2 separate regions of the Homo sapiens genome follow, and region 1 is linked to region 2. Evidence: fine-mapped expression QTL. A gene starts in region 2. The other region holds a variant in brackets. All regions are shown on one strand. Distances are between the middles of the regions. Region 1 overlaps GGA2 (golgi associated, gamma adaptin ear containing, ARF binding protein 2). Region 2 holds the start of UBFD1 (ubiquitin family domain containing 1).

Region 1 (8,000 bases), 66 kb before region 2:
TAGACCTTGTGACTGACCAAGAACAGTCATGACCAAAAGCACCGCCAGCACTAGGCCAAAGGGCTCCCCACTCACAGGCACCACAGTTATCCCTGGGTCTTGGCCACCTTCTTCTTCTTGTCCCTCTAGATACTGATGTCCAAGGAATAACGGTTTGGGGAGTTCATGGTGGATGGAAAATGGATAGGGCCGGGCTCACTGGCACTGAGAAAGAGCTGAAGCAACACACAGCAGCAAGTTCTTCCACTGTCCCCACCCCAACACCACACCCACACAGGACATGACCCATCCATCACCCACACTCCCCACGGGCTATCCTTCTGCACCTTCTTTCCCCCAGGAAGGCTGTGCACAAAAGGGAGAGGGCACAAAGTACCCTTGAAGGAGGAGCAGGAATTATGTCCTGGGCCCAGATCTACACTGGGGTAAGGCAGGATCACAAACAGATCCTACCAAGACCCAGGATGCAGTGTCTGCCTAAGAACCAGGCTGAATCAAAACAGACTGGCCCTTATTAGTTGACTTATCCATGAAGAACGCACCCAAACCTTCTGCTACCTCACTCCTAAGGGCCTGTCTGGAGAGGAGAACCCATGTAACCTGCCCCCCTCCATACTCCGATTCAAGCATCAAAGGGCATTTACAGTGCCTAAGAGAAAAGGTCTGATCAGACACCATGTAGGTCTGTTTCCTTACCTTGGACTTTTCTTCATCAGCATCAAAGATGGAGCTCTTGGGCCAGGGAGATGGTGGGGGTAAGATTTTATCCACTGGTAGTTTAGGGTCTTGTTTTATAATTCCTAAAAATGCAATTTACAAAGTTAAGACACCGATATGGTACCCAGAAACTTCAGTCAGAATCCAGTATAAAGTCTGGAAACCCCTGGTTCCTAATACCATGCTAGCAAAGCACTGTCAACAGCCTTCAAAGACAACACCCAGTGTATGAACGAAGTTTTGCATCATCTCTTAGGAGAATCCAAGGGACCATGGTGGCCGGGACAGCAGAGCCAACTATGTCAGAGAAGAGCCAGTCCTGAAGGCCTGCAGTCTGTGGGCCTTATGCTGTAAAAGCATGGATCAGTTTATCCAGCTACATAACCTCCCAGGGATCAAAAGTTTCTGGAGGGTCCCTGATGAAGCTCCTGAAAATGCTGAGTGTATGTGACAGGGAACAACAGTCCATCCTGAACCTGAGTTCCTTCTTTTAAGAGCCCAACATAAAAAGGAATTCAGATTCCCATCTTCCAAACAGGACACACAAAGGTGGGAACTATCACCCCCATCGTGACAACAACAAAACACTGGAAAGTGTGCAAATTCACAATATTTTTGTTGTTTTTGAGACAGATTCTTGCTCTGTCTCCCAGGCTAGAATGCAGTGGTGTGATCATGGCTCGCTGCAGCCTCAAACTCCTAAGGTCAAGCAGTCCTCTCACCTTGGCCTCCCAAGTAGCTGGGACTACAGGTGGGCACCACCACACCCAGGTAATTTTTTTAAAAAATTTTTTGTAGAGATGGGGGTCTCGCTATGTTGCCCAGGCTGGTCTCAAACTCCTGGCCTCAAGTGATTCCTCACCTCAAACTCCCAAAGTGCTGGGATCACAGGCGTGAGCCACCATGCCCAGCCTACAGCTTCCCTGAATACATCAGAGAGCCCAGATCACAGGGCAACAACCAAGTAACCTGAAATCTAAGGAAAAAAACAACCTCCAAGGATTGACAAAAGGCAATACCAATAGTAACAACTAAGCTAGAATTATTTAAAAATTGTCTACAGGCCAGTGTGAGCTACCAAGAGAATACAGAATTTCTGGAGGCTGCAACAAAAAGAAAATAAGCTCTTCTCCAGAGGCTCACGAAAACAGCGGGAAGGCCTGAAGGCGGGATTAGGGGGAGAAGAGTAACAAACCCTGCAGCCTTAGAGCACCGGTGGAACCCACTGCAGCTAGAGAAAAAACAGGGGAGAAAAAACAAAAACAAACCCTAGTACCCTTGGAGGAGGAGCAGGAATTATGTCCTGGGCCCAGATCTACACTGGGGTGAGGCAGGATCACAAACAGATCCTACCAAGACCCAGGATGCAGTGCCTGCCTAAGAACCAGGCTGAATCAGAACAGAGACTGGCCCTGCCCGCCACCCTATCCCTCTGACAAGGGATGGCTGTCTACTGCTACGAGTGGCAAGAACAAGGAGAAAGGCTCTCTCTGAGGTGCAGAGGAAAGTGAAGACCTACAGCTGAGAGAACAGATACTGAAGAAAACTAACAAACTAGCTAGCCCCCAACCTAAACATCAGCTAACACTAGAGGAATCTGAAGTCTGATATAGTAACTACAGCAACAACAAATCTCACACCCAGCTCAAATCCTGTCTACCAAAAGGAAAGCTCTACCCAATTCCAGGGATTAAAAACTCCTTACCTCACTGATGGATATGCCAATTACCCTGATTTGATCACTACACATTGTATGCATGTACCAAAATATCACATTGTACTCCAATAAATGTGTATAAGTATGTGTCAATTAAAAATAAATCCACAGCCGGGAGCGGTGGCTCACGCCTGTAATTCCAGCACTTTGGGAGGCTGAGGCAGGCGGATCATTTGAGGTTGGGAGTTTGAGACCAGCCTGAGCAATGTGGTGAAACCCCATCTCTACTAAAAATACAAAAATTAGCCAGGCATGGTGGCAGGTGCCTGTAATCCCAGCTACTCGAGAAGCTGAGGCACAAGAATTACTTGAACCCAGGAGGCGGAGGTTGCAGTGAACAGAGATCGCCCCACTGCACTCCAGCCTGGGCAACAGAGTGAGACTCTGTCTCAAAAGAAAAAAAAAAAAAAGAAGTAAATAAAAATAAATCCACTAAATGATTACTGAAAGATCTTTTGTAACTATAAAATATTTTATGTCTGCACGTTGTTACTTTTATCACAATAGTATTTTTCAAACTCTAGCTCATAGGTAGCATTTATCTGTACTTCATAGTAAGGTTCCACTATTTCAGGAAAAGAGGTTAAAGATGGGCATGGTGGCTCACGCCTGGGAGGCTGTGGGAGGATCATTTGAGCCCAGTAGTTTGAGACCAGCGTGGGTAACATTGCAAGACCCTGTCTCTACAAAAAATACAAATATTTGGTGTAAGTGAGACAGCAAGTGAGACAGAGACAGAGAGAGAGGAAGAGAGTGTGTGTGTTTGTGTGTGTGTGTTGGGGTGTGGGTGGGAGAATAATAATAAATGAAAAAATTAGTTGGGTATGGTGGCACACGCCTGTAGTCCCAGCTGCTTGGGAGACTGAGGCAGGAAAATGGCTGGAGTCCAGAAGGTCGAGGCTACAGTGAGCCATGACTGCACCACTGTGCTCCAGCCTAGGTAACAGGGCAACACCTTGTCTCAAAAAAAAAAAAAAAAAAAAAAACCAAAAGGTTAGTTTTTAGGCAAACAAGTCTTTTAAAAGATAAATAAGTGCTTTAGTGACATAGGTAGCTTGTATTTTGACCTTTTTCATGCTGTGGTTTCCTATGATTTCCAGGCAACAGGGAAAAAAGCAAACCCTACATCATCTTTCCAGGTTTGCACTATGGCTTTTAAAGGTAAGTAGATAAAAGATTTATTGCGTAAAAAAAAAAAAAAAAAACTCTACCTCAGTGTCTATGGTCCTACATAAGAAGTACAGCTTTCAACAAAAAATTATAAGGCAGATGAAAAAGCAAGAAGATACAGGCCTAGTCAAGAGGAAATAAGACACAGTAAGGCAAGTCAGACCTTGTTTCTTCAGCATCTGATAAGCGTCTCGAATCTTGATGTCTTCCGGAAACCAGACTGTCCAACTGAAGAGTATTTCAATGACTCTTCCTTTAACTTTTCCTGTGGCCCAGGACCCCAGGTACTGAAAGTAAAAAGGAAAGAGAATTCTAGAGCTGGAAGGGACTTGGGAGACCGACACTTTAACTAAAGAGGTAGCTGCTGAGGCCCAGAGACACAAGCTCCCAGGCGCGGTATGAGTGTGAGGAGAGACTAGAGGCCACACCATCTGGCGCCCAGCCCCGGAGCCCTTCCTGGGATTCAAGGAATTCATCTCGGCAATACTCACACTAAACCCCACCATGCAAGAGCCTGGGTCAGAGCCTGTTCTACACCACTGGGGACAGTCATTTTTTGCCTTGGACAAGAATATAATAATAAAATTTGGTCTTTGTTTCCGTTCCTGGCACAGAACTTCAAAAATCCTTGGAATTTCCTGAGTCACAAGAGTGTCTTGTTATTCAAGAGACACACTCGCAGGGTGCACCTGAGTTTTCACTAATGACTTACAGTGAGTGCCTAGAGAGCTTCAAGGGCTGGCCACTCCAAAGAGATCAACCTTGTGATCAGAGGGCTGAAACTTTCAGCCCCATCCCCTGACCGGTGCCCCCACATCCCCCCACCTGTGGAGGTGGTGGGGCGGGCAGGGGGGTGTGAACTAGAGATTGAGTTCAACTATGTGGCCAATGATTTGACCGATCATGCCTAGGTAATAAAACCTAGTGCTAGTTCAAGCCAGCAATGATGTGTAAAAAAACAAAACAAAACAAAAAAACCTCAGATGAAAACACTGAAACAAGGAAGCTCAGAGAGCCTCTCAGTTGAACCTACGTTGGGAGGATGGCAAGCTCAGAGTCCAGGGGAGGGCACAGCAGCTCTGTCCCCTCTTGCCCCACCAAGACCTTGCCTATGTATCGCTTCCATTTGTATCCTTTACAATAAAACAGGGATAGAAAGTATAGTGCTTTCCTGTGTACGTGAATCATTCTAGGGAATTATGGAATATGGGGCGGTGGGGGTCATAGGAACCCCTGAATCTGCAGCTGGGGATGCAGAAGTGCAGCAGCTTGAGGACACATGAGACTCACGGCTGGCAGCTGAAACACAGGAAGCCTAAGCAGCACTGAGCCCTCACTGCGTG[G/T]GGTCCGGGTAGCATGCAACTCAGGGGAGTGTCAGAACTGAAATGAACTGTAGGACCCATGGCCAGCATCGGCACTGTTGTGGGAACACAACAAGGCAGGGCTCAATGTTGGTTACCTGAGACTGGCTGAGCTAAGACAGGTGCCAGGAGGACAGGTACAGAGGACAAGGCAGGAGGTGATAGGAAACTTTCACGCCACCCCTGGGATCTCTCACTGTCTCTATCAGGAACCTGTGCCTCCAAGCTGGAGTTCCTCATCTCCTCTAGGCCACACGTTCCCCAGGCCTTCTTAAAAGGGAAATGTGAAAATGCTAACAGTGAGGGGCAGGGGTCAGCTAATGAGCAGAGCCTCTTCCTAGAGCTTGGAGAGGAGAGCGCTTCTTTCACAGGCAGGAGCAGGTTTTGTCCATGCGTGGGCCTGCCTCTGGCCTGAGGAGGGAGCCAGGAGTTTGACAGTGGGCGTAGGTGCGACACAGTCAGCAGAGCCAAGCCCAGGTACTCACCTTTGGGGACAACACTTTGATCAGTTCGTTCAGGAAACGAAATTTGGCCACCTCGCTGTGGAACTTCTCCCCACAGTGGTTCATGCACATCTCCAGCACCTGCACAGACACAGGACCCCCAGGAGAAGGTGGAAAGCCAGTGGTCCCAGGCTCCCCTCCAGGCTGGTAATCACTTGCTGGAGACTGCGCTGGAACCAAGGCTAACCCTGCCTCAAGCCTATGAGGACACTGAAGTTTTGATGAAGAGGACGTTTTCAGATCAAGAAAAAAATGTCCCCTGTTCAATCTTGCTATAACTGCCTGAGGTTTATGCCCAGGAAATAGCTTAGTGAGGTATGTCAAACCCTGAGGTCACCCCACCTTTTAAGGAGACCCTTTGAGAGGAGAAAGTGGCTAAAGAACCAACCCCTCCCCAGAGGCAGAGATCTGGTATCCAGTGCCCAAGACCAGCCGGATGTCACCCACTGGCACTCAAGAGGCAAGCTGAGCCTGCAGACCCCTCCTCTCGTCCATACTGTGGCTTTCAACACTGCAAATTAGTCACCAACATCTAAACACTCAAACATATACAAAGACCTAAACTAGCAACCCTGAGCCCATACTCATACCTGCCAACAGCTAGTGGGCCCTGTGCTAGAACTGCCCTCTCTAGAAAAGGCACATGAACTTGCCAGCCCTGGTCTAAGAAGGGCAAATGAAATAAAACCTTCCTTTCCTTCTCCCACAGTAGACTCAATGCTGCCCTGAAGAAACAGACGAGAAACAGGAGGAAGAAGGGTGGGGACCCTGGCCCAGATCTCCCTCCTCCAACCTGCTGTGAAGGTAAACCTCTCAGGGGACCTCCCTTCTCCAGTGAAAAGGATCTGTGTGGAAGCAAAGCGCCTCTCGGCTCTCTATAGCACAAGGACAGGAAAGGTTAGGCTACAAGGCAAGCCAAACTCACCGTTAAGGCATAAAGAGCTTCCTTCTCTTGCGGAGACTGGATCTTGTGGGCCAGTAGCCAGGGCGCATGTGTGGGGCTACAGGGAAACAAAAAGACCTAGACTCTGGGCGGGCAAAAAGAAACTAACCCGAGTGGCTGAGCATGCTCAGTAAAATCACTTTTCTTCCAGGGGCTGGTGTCCAAAAGCAGAGGTGGAGCGTGCCTGACAAACAGGCCACGCGGGGGCCCTGGAGAGGGCCACCTCGCACCCACCCTGGTTGCACCTACAGCACCCAAGGTCCTCCTCCTGCCCAGGGCACACTGCCCTCCCCTCAGCCAACCCCCAGCCCCCAAACTCCAAGCTGCCAGTCCCAGCCCAGTCCCATGAGTAGCCACAGCAGCACAGGCCCTGTATGGCTGTGATAAATACCTAGGAAATGCTAGAGCAGAAAGTGCGATCAAACTCTGGGTTCAAACTGGCCAAATATGCGACACCACACAGATTAAACATCTGGATGGGCCAGGCACAGTGGCTCACGCCTGTAATCCCAGCACTTTGGGAGGTCAGGGCAGGTGGATCACCTGAGGTCAGGAGTTCGAGACCAGCCTGGCCAACATGGTGAAGCCCCATCTCTACTAAAAAAATACAAAAAATTAGCCAGGCATGGAGGCACGCGCCTGTAATCCCAGCTACTTGGGAGGCTGAGGCAGGAGAACCACTTGAACCCGGGAGGTGGAGGTTGCAGTGAGCTGAGATCGTGCCCTTGCACTCCAGTCTTGAGACACTCTGTCTCAGGAAAAAAAAAAAAAGAAAAGAAAAGAAAACAAAACAAAAACAAAACATCTGGATGACTCACTTGATTCTGATTCTTCAGGTCCTATCCAGATGCTGTGGAAACAGAATTCAATAAAACCTTCCCCTTTTCCTTTTTCTTAAAATTACATTTAAATGGTGGAGAATACACAGATCTCTTTTAATTAGGTAACGTGTCTATAGTCTATCAGTAACATTCAGAGTTCTCCTCAGCATTAGTGTTTTATAACAGTATTTAAAATTAATAACTGCCAGTTGCAAGTGAGCTATCCTGTGTTTTTTTTCCCCCACATGAATTTGCTAATTTTAGAAAAATAATGTTCTCAGGATTATAGGGGAAAATGAGAGAATGAATGCCAGCCTGACTGCATTTCTATTTTTTTGAGACAGAGTCTCTCACTCTGTCACCCAGGCAGGTCTCAAACTCCTGGGCTCAAGCAATCCTCCTGCCTTGGTCTCCCAAACTGTTGGGATTATAGGCATGAGCCACCGATCCTTGCCTAGAGAGCTTAACCCTAAAACAGTCTTGAGAGACAAAGGCCTACACTCAGTGTGGGGTGCCCCCAGAGTCAACTATGTGTGTGAGAAGTTACCTTACCCATTGGGGTCAGTGTTCACCTGCTCACAGAAATTCTGGATAGCTGACCAATCCTGTTCCGACATGCTTGGGTCTGTGGCTTTGTCTGTCAAATAAATAATAAAGTTAGAGAGTACATAATAGGAAGAAATTTACACCCCTCCCCATACACATGGTGGCCAAGAGCTGTCTTATCACAGATCTACAGGATCAGACCAGTGGGCAGACAGCTGGAAG
Region 2 (15,720 bases):
GCAGTGATGCAATCTCGGCTCACTGCAAGCTCCGCCTTCCGGGTTCACGCCATTCTCCTGCCTCAGCCTCCTGAGTAGCTGAGACTACAGGCACCCGCCACCACGCCTGGCTAATTTTTTGTATTTTTAGTAGAGATGGGGTTTCACTATGTTAGCCAGGATGGTCTCGATCTCCTGACCTCGTGATGCACCAGCCTCGGCCTCCCAAAGTTTTGGGATTACAGGCGTGAGCCACCACGCCCGGCCAACCATTTTATACTCTTTAGGAATCCAGAGTTTAGTGAGTAATTTACCTGAGATTAGAACACACATCTCAAAATAGTCTTGGGGTTTTTCTTTCTTTTTTTTTCAATCTCTAGACTAGCAGAGTCTTGGTATTTTTCCTTGGGAATCTCCCCTTTCCTAGTCACACCCGTCCATACAGGTAGACAACTGTCGACCCATGAAAAGGAAACACACTCCTCTTTGTTCTCCCTGACCTTAGCTGTCCTCAGGATAAAACTTCCCACAAGATCAACTTCAGAAGCTGTACGTGTTTTGTGTGGCTTATACAACATGGTTAAAAAAAATCTGAGCCCAGATTTAATAATGGTTAAGTATTCATCCAGAAAAACTGGATTTCTGGCTCCTCTTGCAACTCAGAGGATTGGACAAGCTGGGCCAGCATTCCCGCATGGGCACAAGGAGCTGGAGCTCAGAGGCACTCCCAACTCTGGATGAGGTGTGGTTTTCACAGCTCAGCACTGGCCCAGCTCCTCCAGTTCCCACTTGGCCCTGTGTTTCCTGCCTGGCCCCTGTAGGGAATGAACTTGAGATTCTGAGGTGAAAACAGGAATCTCAAAACAGCCTTGGCAGTGGCTCACACCTGTAATCCCAGCTCTTTGGGAGGCTGTAGCAGGAGGATTGCTTGAGCCCAGGAGTTTGAGAATAGCTTGGGCAACACAGTGAGATCTCATCTCTACAAAAAAATTAAAAATTAGCCAGGCGTGGTGGTGCGTGCCTGTAGTCCCAACTACTTGGGAGGCTAAGGTGGAGGATCACTTGAGCCCAGGTCGAGGCTACAGTAAGTTATGATTGTGCCATGGAACTCTAGCCTGGGTAACAAAATGAGACCCTGACTCTAAAAAATTAAAAAATAAAGAAACCAAGTTGGGCGCGGTGGCTCATGCCTATAATCCCAGCACTTTGGGAGGTCGAGGCAGGTGGATCACGAGGTCAGGAGGTCAAGATCATCCTTGCTAACACAGTGAAACCCCGTCTCTACTAAAAATACAAAAAAACTTAGCCGGGCGTGGTGGCGGGCGCCTGTAGTTCCAGCTACTTGGAGGCTGAGGCAGAAGAATGGCGTGAACCCGGAAGGCGGAGCTTGCAGTGAGCCGAGATCGCACCACTGCACTCCAGCCTGGGCAACAGAGCAAGACTCTGTCTCAAAAACAATAAATAAATAAAAATAAAGAAACCAGTCTTGGAGCTGTGTTTCAGAGAGCTTCGGCATTTTTTCAGGTGTCATCTGCCACCCCGGGCAGGGCAGTACAAATGTAGCCACTTCTCCAGGAACTCCCCATTTTCCACTCAGAACTCCATGAGAAGACCCACAGGCTCCTTTTCCTGCTTCCTGTTCCTTCCCTGCAGAAAGATCCTTTCTCTGCCAGGCTTACCTGCCCACTCCAGCATGTCCTCAATATTCTCCGCTGCCCCAGGCACAACGCGAGTCTGATCTGTGTCCTCTAGCCTCAGGATGAAGCTCCCCTGGTACTTCTTAGCAAAGATGTAGTTGTACAAGGCAGTGCGGAGGCCACCCAGGTGCAAGAAGCCTGGAGAAGAGAACAGCTCAGATAAGACAGGGAAGATAAGCTAATAGGCCTCAGCAAGGGGCAAGTAAGCACTACTGTGACAGAATGTTGCAATAAATTTAAAAGACCAGCAGGACACATTGGCTCACGCCTGTAATCCTACCACTTTGGGAGGCCAAGGCCGGGGGGATCACTTGAGCCCAGGAGGTTCCTGTAGGTTTTTTAAGACAAGAGTCTCACTCTGTCACCCAAGCTGGAGTGCAGTGGCACAGTCTTGGCTCACTGCAACCTCTGCCTCTTGTGTTTAAGCAATTCTCATGCCCAGCCTCCCGAGTAGCTGGGATTACAGGTGTGTGCCACCACGTCCAGCTACATGTTTGTATTTTTGGTAGAGACAGGCATTCGCCATGTTGGCAAGGCTGGTCTTGAACTCCTGGCCTCAAGTGATCCCCCCAGCCTCGGCCTCCCAAGTGCTGGGATCACAGGCAAGAGCCATCACACCTGGCCAATTTTTGTATTTTTAGTAAAGATAGGATTTTGCCATGGTGGTCAGGCTGATCTCGAACTCCTGACCTCAAGTGATCCATCTGCCTTGGCTTCCCAAAGTGCTGGGATTACAAGCGTGAGCCATTGTGCTTGGCCTGAGTTTGAGATCTGCCTGGGCAACATGGTGAGACCTTGTCTTAGCAAAAAATATAAAAATTTAGCTGGGCATGGTGGTACATGCCTGTGGTTTCAGTTACTGAGGTGGGAGGATCACCTGAGCCTGGGGACGCTGAGGCTGCAGCGAGCCATGATCACGCCTCTGCACTCCAGCCTGGGCAGCAGTAGAGTGAGACTCTGTCTCAAACAAAAAAAATTAAAAATTAAAAAATTTTTTTTCAAAGACTAAGAACTAGTTACCCCTGTGCCCTGTCTCCAGACACATTTAATCCCTCATCCTGAAAATGGAAACCACCCAGGATTTGGAGCATGTCATTTTATTAAAAGGCTCCAATTTTCCCCAACTGCATCCACCACTCTATTTTGATATTTGTCTCAAGGCCAAGTTTCGCCTGAAAGAGAAGCAGAGAGTTATTCATTGAGGCCATATCATGTACATTTAACTTACAGAAATTCAATGATGTGCGCTGGGAAAAAAATTAATTACAAACAAACTAGAAATTTAAAATACTGTACAATCATATTGTGGGCCAGGTGCAGTAGCTCACACCTCTAATCCCAGCACTTTTGGAGGCAGAGGCACGAGGATCACCTGGGTCTCTAAATTTGAGACCAGCCTGGGCAACATTGTGAGATCCTGTCTCTACAAAGAAAAAAAAAATCGGTGGGGCATGGTGGCTCACACCTTTAATCCCAGCACTTTGGGAGGCCGAGGCGGGTGGATCACAAAGTCAGGAGTTTGAGGCCAGCCTGGCCAACATGTTGAAACCCCGTCTCTACTAAAAATACCACAAAAAAAATTAGCTGGGCATGGTGGTGGGCGCCTGTAATCCCAGCTACTTGGGAGGTTGAGGCAGGAGAACTGCTTGAACCCAGGAGACAGAGGTTGCAGTGAGCCGAGATCGCACCATTGCACTCCAGCCTGGGCGACAGGGCGAGACTCCATCTCCAAAAAAAAAAAAAAAATCACATTTTGCATATGCAGTCTATGCAGTGTGCATGACTGTCCACGTCGTACATTTTAAATTTCATCTACTTGAGATTTTTACTTTTTTAAAGAAACAAAATTCATTTTTGAAATTTGAGATGGGGTCTCACTCTTGCCCAGGCTGAAGTCCAGTGGTACAGTCACGGCTCACTGCAGCCTCAACCACCCAGGCTCAATCAATCCTCCCACGTCAGCCTCCCAAGTAGCTGGAACTACAAGTGTACACCACCATGCCCGGCTAATATTTGTTTTTTGGTTTTTTTTTTGCAGAGGCAAGGTCTCACTATGTTGCCCAGGCTGGTCTCAAACTCCTGGGCTCAAGCAATCCTTACACTTCAGCCTCCCAAAGTGCTGGGATTACTGGCATGAGCCACCATGCCTTGCCAAGATTTTCACCCTAATTGCTGGCTTTAAACACTAACCAAAAGTAGTGTTTGATTCCACTGTATTTCTCTTCATCAGTTTAAACTCCTAAGATTTGCCTTTTTCATCATTCCTGTCTGAAAACTGAAAGTTAACAGCTTTTCCAGAGTTGTCATTACCTCTTACCGTACCTTCTTCGGACCAGCCCACAGCCCTAAGTCTCCACAATGAGCTCATCTACATTTACAAGTACAAGAGGCAGCAGAGGAGAGAAAAAGCTCTTCTGGGGCCAGGCCGACCCTGCTTCAACACTGATGTGTGTAACCTTCGGATAGTTACTGCAAGGACACCAGAAAACCAGTGGTATTCAGTGGCACTGAGTCCCACGAGTCCCCAAGACAAAAGAGGAACCCAGCTGCTGAAAACAAAGCCTCTTACATCAAGTACACCTGGATTCAAATTCTGCATCCACCATTTATTAGTTGCTACCCCTTGAGAAGGAACTCTACTTAACTTTTATGAGCTTCTATTTCCTCATCTGTCAGAGGGATTAAGAGCAAAAAAATAAGAACCTTCTTTATTATAGGGTTGCTCTGAGGTCTAAATGCTGACCAAAGTAAACCCTCAATTAATTTCAGCTACTGTAATGATCTGTGCCTGATAATTCTTTTATCTGTTTATAGTCAAAAGCCTTTCCCACATGGGCTTTCCCCGCAAATGAGCAAGGAAATGAGAAGTACAATCATCATAATAGAGGCTGTGTATTAAGTGCTTTCTGGGTGTACTAGACCTTACTAAGTGGTTCGGCTGCATGAGCTTAACCCCATAAGACAGATATTATTATTAGCCCCGTTTTGACAAATGGTGAAACTGAGGCTCAGATTCATTAAATAATTTGCACATCTAGGCCAGGTGTGATGGCTCACACCTATAATCCCAGCACTTTCGGAGGCCAAGGCAGGTGGATCACTTGAGCTCAGGAGTTCAAGATCCGCCCAGGCAACATGGCAAAACCCCATCTCTACAAGAAAATACAAAAATTAGCTGGGCGTAGTGGTCACACACTTGTAGTCCCAGCTACTCGGGAGGTTGAGGTGGGAGGATCACTTGAGCCCCGGAGGCTGAGGTTGCAGTGAGCCGAGATTGCACCACTGCACTCCAGCCTGGACGACAGACAGAGCCAAACCCTGTCTCAAAATAACAATAATAATTTGCACATCTAGTAAGTTACACATCTAATAAGTGGCCACGACAGAAATTTGGACCCAGGCAATCCCAGGCTTTGGCATTCTACATAAGTGCTCTTCAAAGCAAAGTGTGCAATCCAGTGCTGGTCTGAAAACAGTTGTCAGTTCACAATCAAGTACAGAAACTGAGAGTAAAGGTTTAGAAACTTTTGTTGTTGTTTTGAGATGGAGTCTCACTCTGTCACCCGGGCTGCAGTGCGGTGGCACGATCTCGGCTCACTGCAACCTCTTTCTCCTGGGTTCAAACGATTTTCAGCCTCCTGAGTAGCTGGGATTACAGGCCTGGGCCACATGCCCGGCTAATTTTTGTATTTTAGTAGAGACAAGGTTTTGCCATATTGGCCAGGCGAAACTTACATAGCAATCTGGCAGAATGATTTTACCTCTGCTAACCCAAATAAAATGAGATTGGTTTGTATTTTGGATGTTTTCAAAATTTTATTTTTCTGGTCATTATATTAATTTTGTGCAAATATTGATACACAATTGATTGGAAATTTAAAACCAGCACTTCCACAACAGATGGTTTGAAAGGCACTGCTCTAGGCTATACTGCCTGCCAGAAAGATCCTGTCATGTATAGCTGGGATTTTACTACAAAGATCTTTGTATGTTCATCCTGGGATTTGGGATGAGAGGCATACTCCGTGTAGAGAACGTAGAAGGTAGCCTTACTGGTGGGAACCAAAAGGCCCTGACGAGATCTCCAACAGGCTATACAATGGGCCTCTGTCACCCTCTAGCTTGCTAAGCTCCCAACAGCACTAGCACAGTGCCTTGGTACCTGCGATTTCCTCTACCCAGAAGGTTCCTTCTTTTTTGTTTTTGAGACACAGTTTCGCTCTTGTTGCCCAGGCTGGAGTGCAATGGCGCGATCTTGGCTCACCGCAATCTCCACCTCCTGCGTTCAAGCGATTCTCCTGCCTCAGCCTCCCAAGTAGCTGGGATTACAGGCATGCGCCACCATGCCCAGATAATTTTGTATTTTTAGTAGAGACAGGGCTTCACCATGTTGGTCAGACGGCTCTCAAGTGATCCACTTGACCTCAAGTGATGCACCCACCTCTGCCTCCCAAAGTGCTGGGATTACAAGCGTGAGCCACCGCGCCTGGCCTCCAGAAGGTTCCTTCTATAGGCTTCACATAGCGTGCTCCTTCTTGTCATTTGGATCTCAGCTCAAATGTTACCTGCTCAGTAAAGCCTTCTGGAGCGTCCTTCTTAATCCCCAGTCTCCTATCCTGTTTCACTTCCCGCATGGCACATGTGACTCTAAAATTACACTTATTTTTTATAAGTGTCTGCGGCAGCCACTAGAATGCAGACTTCCACAGAGCAAGGCCCCTACCTTTCTCAATGATCACTGTATCCCAGCGTCTACAACACCTGTTACACAGGTTGTCATCAATGCACATGTATGGAATGCATGAAAAAAAGATCGAAAGAGATGGGATGGCACAAAAAACACAAGAAACTCCTGGCAATTTGAATTATTTCCGCTCCTGCACCTCAGTTTCCGCCTCTGTAAAATGGGCTCGCGCTGCCTTAACCCTCCTCCGCCCGCCCACTCTGACACCACCGGAAAGGATTCATTCGGGAACATTCGTGGGGCGGAGACGGGACAGGGGGCCTCGGCCTGTAGCGTCACGTCCGCCAGGGTTACCTGTGGGGCTGGGAGCGAACCGCACTCGCACCGCAACCCCGGCATCAGTGCCCAGGTTGGCCTCGCGCCGTCCTACGGGGCGGCCAGAGGCCGCCGAAGGCCTCTCGCGCTGCAGCAGTCTCCTCAGGAGCGCCGCCATGTGGGATGGAATAGCACACGTGGGCTTCTCCCTGCGTCACTTCCGGGGACTGCTTCCAGCCAATCGGCCTCCGCCACAGCCAGCGCAGCCTTGCCCCTTAAAGTCACAGGCCCCCTAGCGCGAAATCCCACGCCCCCCTGGACGGCTGCGGCCGCACTCGCCACCAGGGGGCAGAGGCCAGAGAAAGGGCTATTTCCCGGACCCGCCCCCTTCAGCTTGGGAAAGCGAAAGCGTGGCAGGGGCCGGACCTGGGAGCGGAGGAGGCGGGTCTCCATAGAAACCTCCACCTGTTTCCGGCCGGGCTGTGAGAGATTAGGGGCTGCTGCGGGGGCCAATCTCAGCCAGCTCGCCTCTTCCCAGCGGCCTCTGCGGGAGCGGTGGGTGTTGTACACAATCATCATGGCGGCGGCCGGGGCCCCGGATGGTGAGTGCGGCGGGGGTGGCGGGCGCCGGGCCGGGGCTGAGGTTGCGGTCGCTCCTCTGGGGGATGCGGCCCGGCCCGGGAGGGAGAACCGCGGCTCGGGAACGGAGGTCCGGCGGCGCCCGGACAGCGTCCGTTCCCAAGCCCAGCCCGCGGCGAGCGCCCACCCCCTAACCCCCTTGCAGGCATGGAGGAACCTGGCATGGACACGGAGGCCGAGACTGTGGCTACTGAGGCTCCCGCGCGGCCCGTCAACTGCCTGGAGGCTGAAGCCGCGGCGGGGGCGGCGGCCGAGGACTCCGGCGCCGCACGAGGCAGCCTGCAGCCGGCCCCGGCCCAGCCCCCTGGGGACCCCGCAGCCCAGGCCTCGGTCAGCAACGGCGAAGACGCGGGCGGCGGCGCGGGCAGGGAGCTGGTGGACTTGAAGATCATCTGGAATAAGACCAAGCATGACGTGAAGTTCCCCCTGGACAGCACAGGCTCCGAGCTGAAACAGAAGATCCACTCGATTACAGGTAATTCCTGTGGCGCTGACAGCCAGTCTTCCCCACCCCGCCTCCTGATGGCCCTTGCACCCTACTAGGCACCTGGTGGCTTTCCTTGCATCAGGTCCCCCCATCCTTACAGCAGTCTTCTGAAGGATACTTGGATGCCCATTACTCAGCTGGGGAAAGAGACTCAAGTTTATAGAGCTAGTAAGTTGCAGAGCTGGGATTAAAGCCGAAGTCTGACGTTTAGGCCCCAGTTTCTCATTGATGTTGCTCTAACATCTCTAATTAAAAAATCACCTAAGGCGCTTGTTTTACAGCTTCTGGGCCCTTTCCCAGGAGATTCTGATTCAGTGGGTCTGGGATGTAGCCAGGAATTTATTTTTAGCAAATATCTTAGGTAATTCTTCTAAGTGAAGTTTAGGAAACGCTGCTATTGACTTTGATGCTGGTTCTTCACAGTCGATTCTGTTTCTTAATTTTACCTTGTTCATAGCTCTTTGCCATCTGAGATTTCTTTTCTTTTTCCTATTTTTTTTTTTTTTTGAGACGGAGTCTTGCTCTGTTGCCCAGGCTGGAGTGTACTGGCACCATCTTGGCTCACTGCAGCCTCCGCCTCCCAGGTTCAAGCGATTCTCCTGCCTCAGCCTCCCGAGTAGCTGGGATTACAGGTGCCCGCTACCCCGCCGGGCTAGTTTTTTTTATTTTATCCACCCACCTCGGCCTCCCGAAGTGCTGGGATTACAGGCATAAGCCATCACTCCTGGCCTTGAACTTTTTTTTTTTTTTAAAGCTTTCTACATGTAGCCTTGTAATCTCCATTAAGAACAGGAGTTTTGTCCCTATTGGCTTCTGTAGCTCTGATGCCTGTGGATTCTCACTTAATATGTGAATGATTTAGATGACTGAGGAACAACTTGGAAAGAATGAGAGCTAGTACTTACTGAACAATTATTCAATGCTAGCCACCGTACTAAATGCCCCGCATTGGTCTCTTAATCCTTGAAACAGGTCTGTACAGAAGGACTTACTCTAATAAATCTTCTACAGTTCTAGAAACTGAGGTTCAGAGGTTGTAAATCTCCCAAGTTCACAAAGCTAATAGGTGGTGGAGGCAGTATTCACTTTTTGGTCTGTTACCAAAGAGCTGTGTAGTATCCATACATTTTTCTGTCCTTCCTTCCTTTCACTGTCCACCTTCTACCTTTTCCCAAGGTCTCCCGCCTGCCATGCAGAAAGTCATGTATAAGGGACTCGTCCCCGAGGATAAAACATTGAGAGAAATAAAAGTGACCAGTGGGGCCAAGATCATGGTGGTTGGCTCCACCATCAATGATGTTTTAGCAGTAAACACACCCAAAGATGCTGCGCAGCAGGATGCAAAGGCCGAAGAGAACAAGAAGGAGCCTCTCTGCAGGCAGAAAGTGAGTCCATCTTGTGCTTCTTGGTCTTGAGAAATTTGAGGCTTTGTCCTCTTGAGCCGTGGCTGGTTATATTCTCCCTAGAATAAGCTCCTTTTTGGACAGGGCCCATGATGGAAATTTATGGCAGCAGTTGGGTGCCGCAGAGTGGAGGTGACAACTACCTGAGATTTGCAACTTTGTCTCATCTGGCGGGTCAGTGTGTCTCAAGTCTACCTACTTTAGGATAAGACCTTGGTAAAGGGAGGCTTCAGACCATGTGTTGAAAGGAATCAGACGTGGGTTTCTCTCTCTTATTTAGTGCCAGAGAAAACTACCAGTACTAGAAGTAAGCCCTCATTTTGTACAAGTGCTTACATTTGGCTTTTTGGTTTGTGGCTTTCCCCAAGTCAACAAGCCTGGCTAGGCATGGAAATCAACAACTCTCGGAGGTTCCCCTAAAGCTGACCGTTTCAGGAAGCTAAATGAAGCTGAGTAGGAAGACAACTACACTGATGGATTTGTTTATTTATTTTTTTGTCCTGATCTGTGAAATAGGAGCTTGGTTTTTTACGTTCTCTGTTCTTTTGGCTGCAAGAGATCCTGCCTTGTCTTGTGCTCATCATAGCCATTAACATTCTTTCACGTAACGAGGAAAAGTGAGATTATTTTACTATGGAAGGAACAGGTTGTAAGAATCATTACTTGTTATCTTTTTACCTGGCAAATTATACTGATTGCTGTGTAGCCTCCTGATCGTTCTTCCTAGTGTTCCAAGGAAGACAGGTATTCTCAACTGTGTCTGAAGTAGAGTAGATAAACTTCAATCAACATCATTTAGTGACCATAGACACTAAGATATATGACCAACAGTAAGAAAAGGACACAGTTTGTGTTACAGATCCATAATCCCCCATGTGTGCTTCCAAAACCCCAAAGGAGTATAAAAACGAGAAGTGTTTTTATAAATTTAACAGCAAAACCTGACCAGAATTAGTGTGAATTTTCCTCTTTGGTGACAAGGTACTGCCCCAGACCCCACAGAGAAGATTGTTATGTATTTGAAAGCAATATTATCTTTATAAAAATTCCAAAACCCTGAAAGTTCAAAACTCTAGGGTTTCAGATAAGGGGTTATAAACCTATATTAATTATCTAAAAGGTGTTGATTTGGAGACTTCACCCCCACATATGGGGTCTCAGTGTCTTGAAACCGATTGAGTTTCTTCTCATATTCCTGTTTTTCTTTGCCACATGTATGAAATAGTGAAATGTGAGCACGTCAGATAGGAGTGGTCGCAATGGTCACACCCTTGGAGCATAACATGCCTCCTAAATACAGGTTTTTAGTTACTAATGGTAGCTTAACAGGCTTAGAACTGTTCTCCACAGTACAGGAAATCTTGTTCAAAAGGTACTTGAAAGGTGTGACTCGAATTGTACTTCCAGCCCATGCTGCTGTGTTTCATTGAGGCCAATTATGATGCATCACATGACCTAATGAGAGGGATATAGTCCCTTGCCTTTTTACCAGCTTATTAAGGGGTCTGGGGGTGATGTCTGGAGTGACTTTTTGCTAGCAGTCTGGCAGTGCTGAGTTTATTCCTCCCAGAGGGATTCCACCATGCCAGTGAGGATTTGGGCTGGCTTGTGGCTGCCTAGTGCTTACATTTGATTAAATTGTTACCTTCTATCCATTCATTGTCCCCTAGTTCCAGCCTTCCAAGCAGTGGCTATGCCTATAAGGCCACAGATGGAGAAGAAAGAAGACTCAGGCATTTGGGCCAGGCAGGAGAACTGTTTAAGGGGCCCTGAACTTAGAATCCTTGAAGAGCTGCCTCAGAGTTCTTGGGGCAGGTGGTAGGGGTGGAGTTTAGAGGCTTCTTAATGTCAGGTTATAGAGTAATAAGCATTTCTTTCTGAAAGGTGGCTCTTCCAGGTTCCTGTTTAGCTGGAGTTAAGGGTAGGGCAGTGGGGAAAACTTCGGCGATGGGCTGGGTCTCCATTTGTTGAAGAACTGCTCCTCCTAGGCAGTTAGACGGATTACCAGCATCTTATAGTGTTCTCTGGAAGTTTAAGTTGAAAAAGGTGGGTGCCATTTTTTGTCTGCTAGGAGAGCAACACCCTTTGTCGCCCTCTTTAGTTTGATGGTTTAATCATTTCAGTGGTGATTTTTTTTTTTTTTTTTGAGGGGAGGAGGGCAATCTGGAAATCCCGTTTGCTGTAGAACTTTGATATCTAATATGGTAGCTATCCACATGTGGCTGGTTAAAATGAAATTAAGAATTCAGTTCCTCAGTCATAGTAGCTGCATTTCAAGTGTGTAATAGTCACAGCAGTAGGTAGTGGCTAGCACAGGTACGAACATATTCGCCCTCCCAGAAAGTTCTGCTGGACAGCACTGTGCTATAGTTTCAAAGGATCCATAGTCTGTCGTCATTAAAAGCTTTTGAGCCAAAACACTAAGGCTTTCTTCATCCTCTCTTTCAAGGGAATAGTAACACGACGAAATGTAGTCAGCTGTTTCATTTCATTCTCTCTTCTGACTTATAGCAACACAGGAAAGTGTTGGATAAAGGAAAACCTGAAGATGTGATGCCATCTGTTAAGGGGGCCCAGGTAAGGCGGATTTCTTTGTGAGCATTCTGAAAATGAGGCAGCCCCACCGTCTGACTTGAGGTTCCTCCAATCCTGTCCCTTCTCTTTTTTCCCTGTTTTTTTTTTTTTGAGACAGAGTCTTGCTCTGTCACCCAGGCTGGGGTGTGCCACCACACCTGGCTAATTTTTGTATTTTTAGTAGAGACGGGGTTTTACCATGTTGCCCAGGCTAGTCTCCAACTCCTGACCTCAGGTGATCTGACCGCTTTGGCCTCCCAGTGTGCTGGGATTACAGGCGTGAGCCACCGCGCTTGGCCCCCTTCTCTTTTTTTCTGACTGTCCCTCCATCTCTTACCATTCTCTCGTGCCTTCAGGAGCGCCTGCCAACGGTACCGCTGTCCGGCATGTACAATAAATCTGGAGGAAAAGTGAGACTCACCTTTAAACTAGAACAAGACCAGCTGTGGATTGGCACTAAAGGTATGTTCTTCCTCGCCTCCTTGCTGGCCCACTGCCTGCCTCTGGCACCCAGCAGCACTCACATTTTAGAGTGCGATTTCACCCCTCCTTCTGAAACCTCTCTCTCCACTGTGCTTTGCTTGCTTCTGGCTTTTAAATTTGCTTTTAGATGCTCGCCTTTTGTTTGGACCGTTTTCCCTCATTGTTTTCAGTCTGATCTTAGGGCTGATCCACCAAACAGTGGCTCTTCAGTTGCACACAGATTTGGGGGTCCCAAACACGTGGCCCAAGGGCCAAATCTGGTCCACAGAAAAATGTTTTGTGGGATGACACACAATCTGTAAAAATTGGGAGATTTCACTAATCTGATTTTTTTTTTTTTTTTGGCTTCTCTTGAAAACTCAAATGATCTGGCCCTTTGGGGCCTGCATTCTCACATGGCATCGATCCACTAGAGCCGAGTGGTGGTTTCCAGTGGGCCATACTACAGTCTTCATGGTCCCATTTATCTTAGAAGTAGCCAGCTTTGTTCATTTGTCACCTGCCTGGCCCCTGTAGGTCAGAGTTTGACCCTATAGTAGGTGAAGTTTTCCTAACCGCTGCCGAGGAATCTGCCTCTCCCTCCCCGCCTGGTTGCCCTCTGCCTGCCCCACCCCCGCCTGTGCACGGTGTCTGGATCAGCCTTGCTGTTTGCTGGGAAGTGTCTCTGACTGTCCTCCCTCTCCCTTCCCCCAGATGGTTACAAAGTCTTGTTAGTTACACTGCAGAACTGTCTGTCCCTTTCTTTGCCACACTGTTGTGCCAGTTAAAGTTCCCAAGCATCTTTAAACTTGGTCTGTTCAAAGCGAGTTACCCTGTTTCACTGCCCCATCTGTGTTTTCTTCTGTCCTGTCCATCTTACCTACTGCTTTTTATCCTGGGTACCCGTGCTCAAGGACCTTTGGCTGTTTAAGGACACATTCAAATGCCTAACCATAGCGTTCAGTGTTCTCAACACTGGGCCTTAGTTTAAATTTTGGTTCCAGCTTCTGGCCCGTTTGCCCTGTGGTCCCCTGTGTATTTTAGCCGCATCTCTCTGTGAAGCTCCCAGTGTGCTTTGCACAGCTCCTTGTCTTTGCTCATGCTGTGCCCTTACCTGGAATGCCTTTTTCCCATTCCTTGTTATTAATAAAATCTTCCAAGGCCCTACTTAAATGTCCTCTCTGAATGAAGCCTTCCTTGATTCTCCCCCCACCCTCCAAATGACTTGCTGCCGCTTCTGTTCATAGAGCGCTTCGTTTATATCCCCAGAGCACTCATTACTCTCTGACTTGTCTGTCCCCCTGTTAGATTCCTGGAGGGAACCGAACATGCCTAAATCACCTGTTTCTGACCAGCACTGTAGGTATTCAGTGTTCGAGGTAAATGCTAAAGAGAAGTATAGGGGGTCCCATCATCTGACGTTCACTGGTTTCAGGGACAGACCATTTAGTGAGACTCCACTTAAAATGGGACCAAGTTTTATGGAGAATAATTGGGGCAGGGGTGGTGGGAAGAGAGAGTTTTTAATCATCTAAAACACAAAAATCAGTGTTCAACCCTATACTGATTGTTAAAATGAACAAAAATTGAAATGCCAAAAATGCTTGAGTTTTCTATCAATTTTATGATAACTTGCTATTTTCTTCATTTCACATTCAACTCTAACTGCATGGTCAAAGCAAGTTTTGCAGAATATCTGAGGGTTCCCCCCAGTTTTTGCAAGGGCCTTTGAACCCTCTGCTAGATCATTCTCTTCTGTAGAGCCTGTCCATCTTCCCTTTATCAGTAGTAAGCTGCCCAGCCTCTGTCAACTTTGCAGGTGATTTTGCTTAGTTCTGTCTCATCACATTCACTTGCTGAAGTGCATAGACTTCCTGCCTCTTGCTGGACCTCTACTTTTGCTTGTGGGCAGCCTCATTGAAGGCAGTTGCTACGGCTGACCTGGAAAGACCCTGCCATGAAGATAGGTGCAGGCAGAGAAGTCTGGATGGGAACTAAGTCTGTAAGTGCTCATTGGTTCCTTGGGGAATATTTCTGTGTCAGGAAGTTGTATAGGGAACACATCATAACTGCAGGAACTGACAGAACAAGAACTTCCTGACCCTGTATTGGAAGTTTTCTTTTTGCTAGTAGGAGCAGCCGCCTTCCTGCTTTGGCCTAAAGGGAGAGCTGTAGAAGAAGCTCAATATGTTGGGGCTTCTGAGCCCTTGAAAGCCTCCTTACTCACCAGTCTTGTTGAGGAGCATGGCCATGGACTACTCATGTTTTCTAGGGTTGAACAAGGTTAAGATTTTCATTCCCACCCATAGCACTGTACCTCTGGAGCCCAAGGGGCAGGCAGTCTTGTCACTTGCCCAGTCCTGTTACCTAAGTGTCATAAGCACTCATAAGAGGACAGCTTGTTCTGGGAGTTGGCTGCTAGCCACTGGCTTCGTCTTTCTGCTGGCAAGAAGAAGCGGCTATGGAATGACCATCCCAGCAGCGAGTTGGCCTCTTCGTGGGGCGCTTTGCTGAGTAAGTGACCCTTAAGGGCTGCTACTCTTGACTAAACTCTGCTAGCTTGTGTAGGAGGAGGCAGTTCTAACAGCCTCAAAAGAATGAGAACAAGCTCCAGGCAGGAAACCGGAAGCCGCTGGAGGAGAGCATGTACCCTGCTCGTAGGAAAGTTGAATCTGGCTGAAGGTCTGATGTAGTGATCAGGAGTGTGGGTCCAGAATTGCCCAATTTTTGGAGTTTTCAAGAGAAGCCAGAAATCTGTTGTATATTTTTGTGAAATCTCCAGACATTTCAGGATGAAAGGTGTTTTAAAAGTTTCCATCTTAAAGACAGCTGCTGCCCAGGTCCTGCTTTAGGGCCGACTGTTGTAGAGCCACTAGAAGTCCAAACCTAAATAAACATCTTCAGGTCCCTTCTCCCCAGCCCCCATTTTTCAGATACTGAGGCCCACAGAACTGAAGTAAAATGTCTTAAGTCCCCAGCTAGACCAGAACGCTGGTCTCTAAATTCCTAGTCTGTTTGGCCAACTTATCTATTTTTAGACTCTATCTTTCCAGATTTTTCTTTCTGCAAAGGCTGCAAGTTTTTTTCCACTTGGTTTAGCTGTTTGCTGAGCCTCCCTGCCCCCCTCCCCCTGCGCCCCCGTCCCTGAGGTGTCTGCTGCTCCAGGATGGCCATGTCCCCTTGTGCAGGTGCACCTCGCCTCCCCTGACCTCACCCAGTCCCGCTTCACTTGGCTCACTCCCGGCAGTCTCATCTCACTCCAGGCATCCCTTGCTGCCCCCTTCTCTTACCTGCCATCCTCCTTAAACTCGCCTCAATGTCTTCTGACCCCATGTGATCAGTGGTATCTCAAGTGTTAATCACAAAAGGTTATAAATGTTTTAAGAGAACTTCATAAAAGTGTGTGAATATAGAGTGCGGAGGACTCGAGGAGGGAGGCCGGGGAAGGGAGCAGGGTCGTGGTATAGAATCTAGCCCTAA

Evidence for each region. PIP is the estimated chance that this variant, and not a neighbour inherited with it, causes the effect.
Region 1: its variant is fine-mapped to the expression of UBFD1 in fibroblasts (GTEx, PIP 0.92).

The regions. Positions count from the first base shown.
Region 1 is chr16:23,487,910-23,495,909 of GRCh38, forward strand. GGA2 (golgi associated, gamma adaptin ear containing, ARF binding protein 2) reads right to left here. Exons shown (of 17, transcript NM_015044.4): 2 at 7,785-7,869; 3 at 6,394-6,469; 4 at 5,451-5,549; 5 at 3,768-3,891; 6 at 697-800. Among named protein-coding and RNA genes, the nearest start is that of GGA2, 19 kb to the right of the region's middle. The variant G/T (reference allele first, on the strand shown) is at 4,948.
Region 2 is chr16:23,550,491-23,566,210 of GRCh38, forward strand. UBFD1 (ubiquitin family domain containing 1) reads left to right here and starts at 7,237. Exons shown (of 7, transcript NM_019116.3): 1 at 7,237-7,277; 2 at 7,460-7,789; 3 at 8,978-9,186; 4 at 11,716-11,781; 5 at 12,135-12,240. The coding sequence starts at 7,253. It overlaps EARS2 (glutamyl-tRNA synthetase 2, mitochondrial), which reads right to left and starts at 6,860. Exons shown (of 9, transcript NM_001083614.2): 1 at 6,715-6,860; 2 at 1,659-1,814. The coding sequence starts at 6,853. RefSeq lists enhancers at 5,545-6,189, 6,550-6,829, 6,834-7,478, 7,020-7,219, 7,479-8,122 and silencers at 7,290-7,379, 7,480-7,659.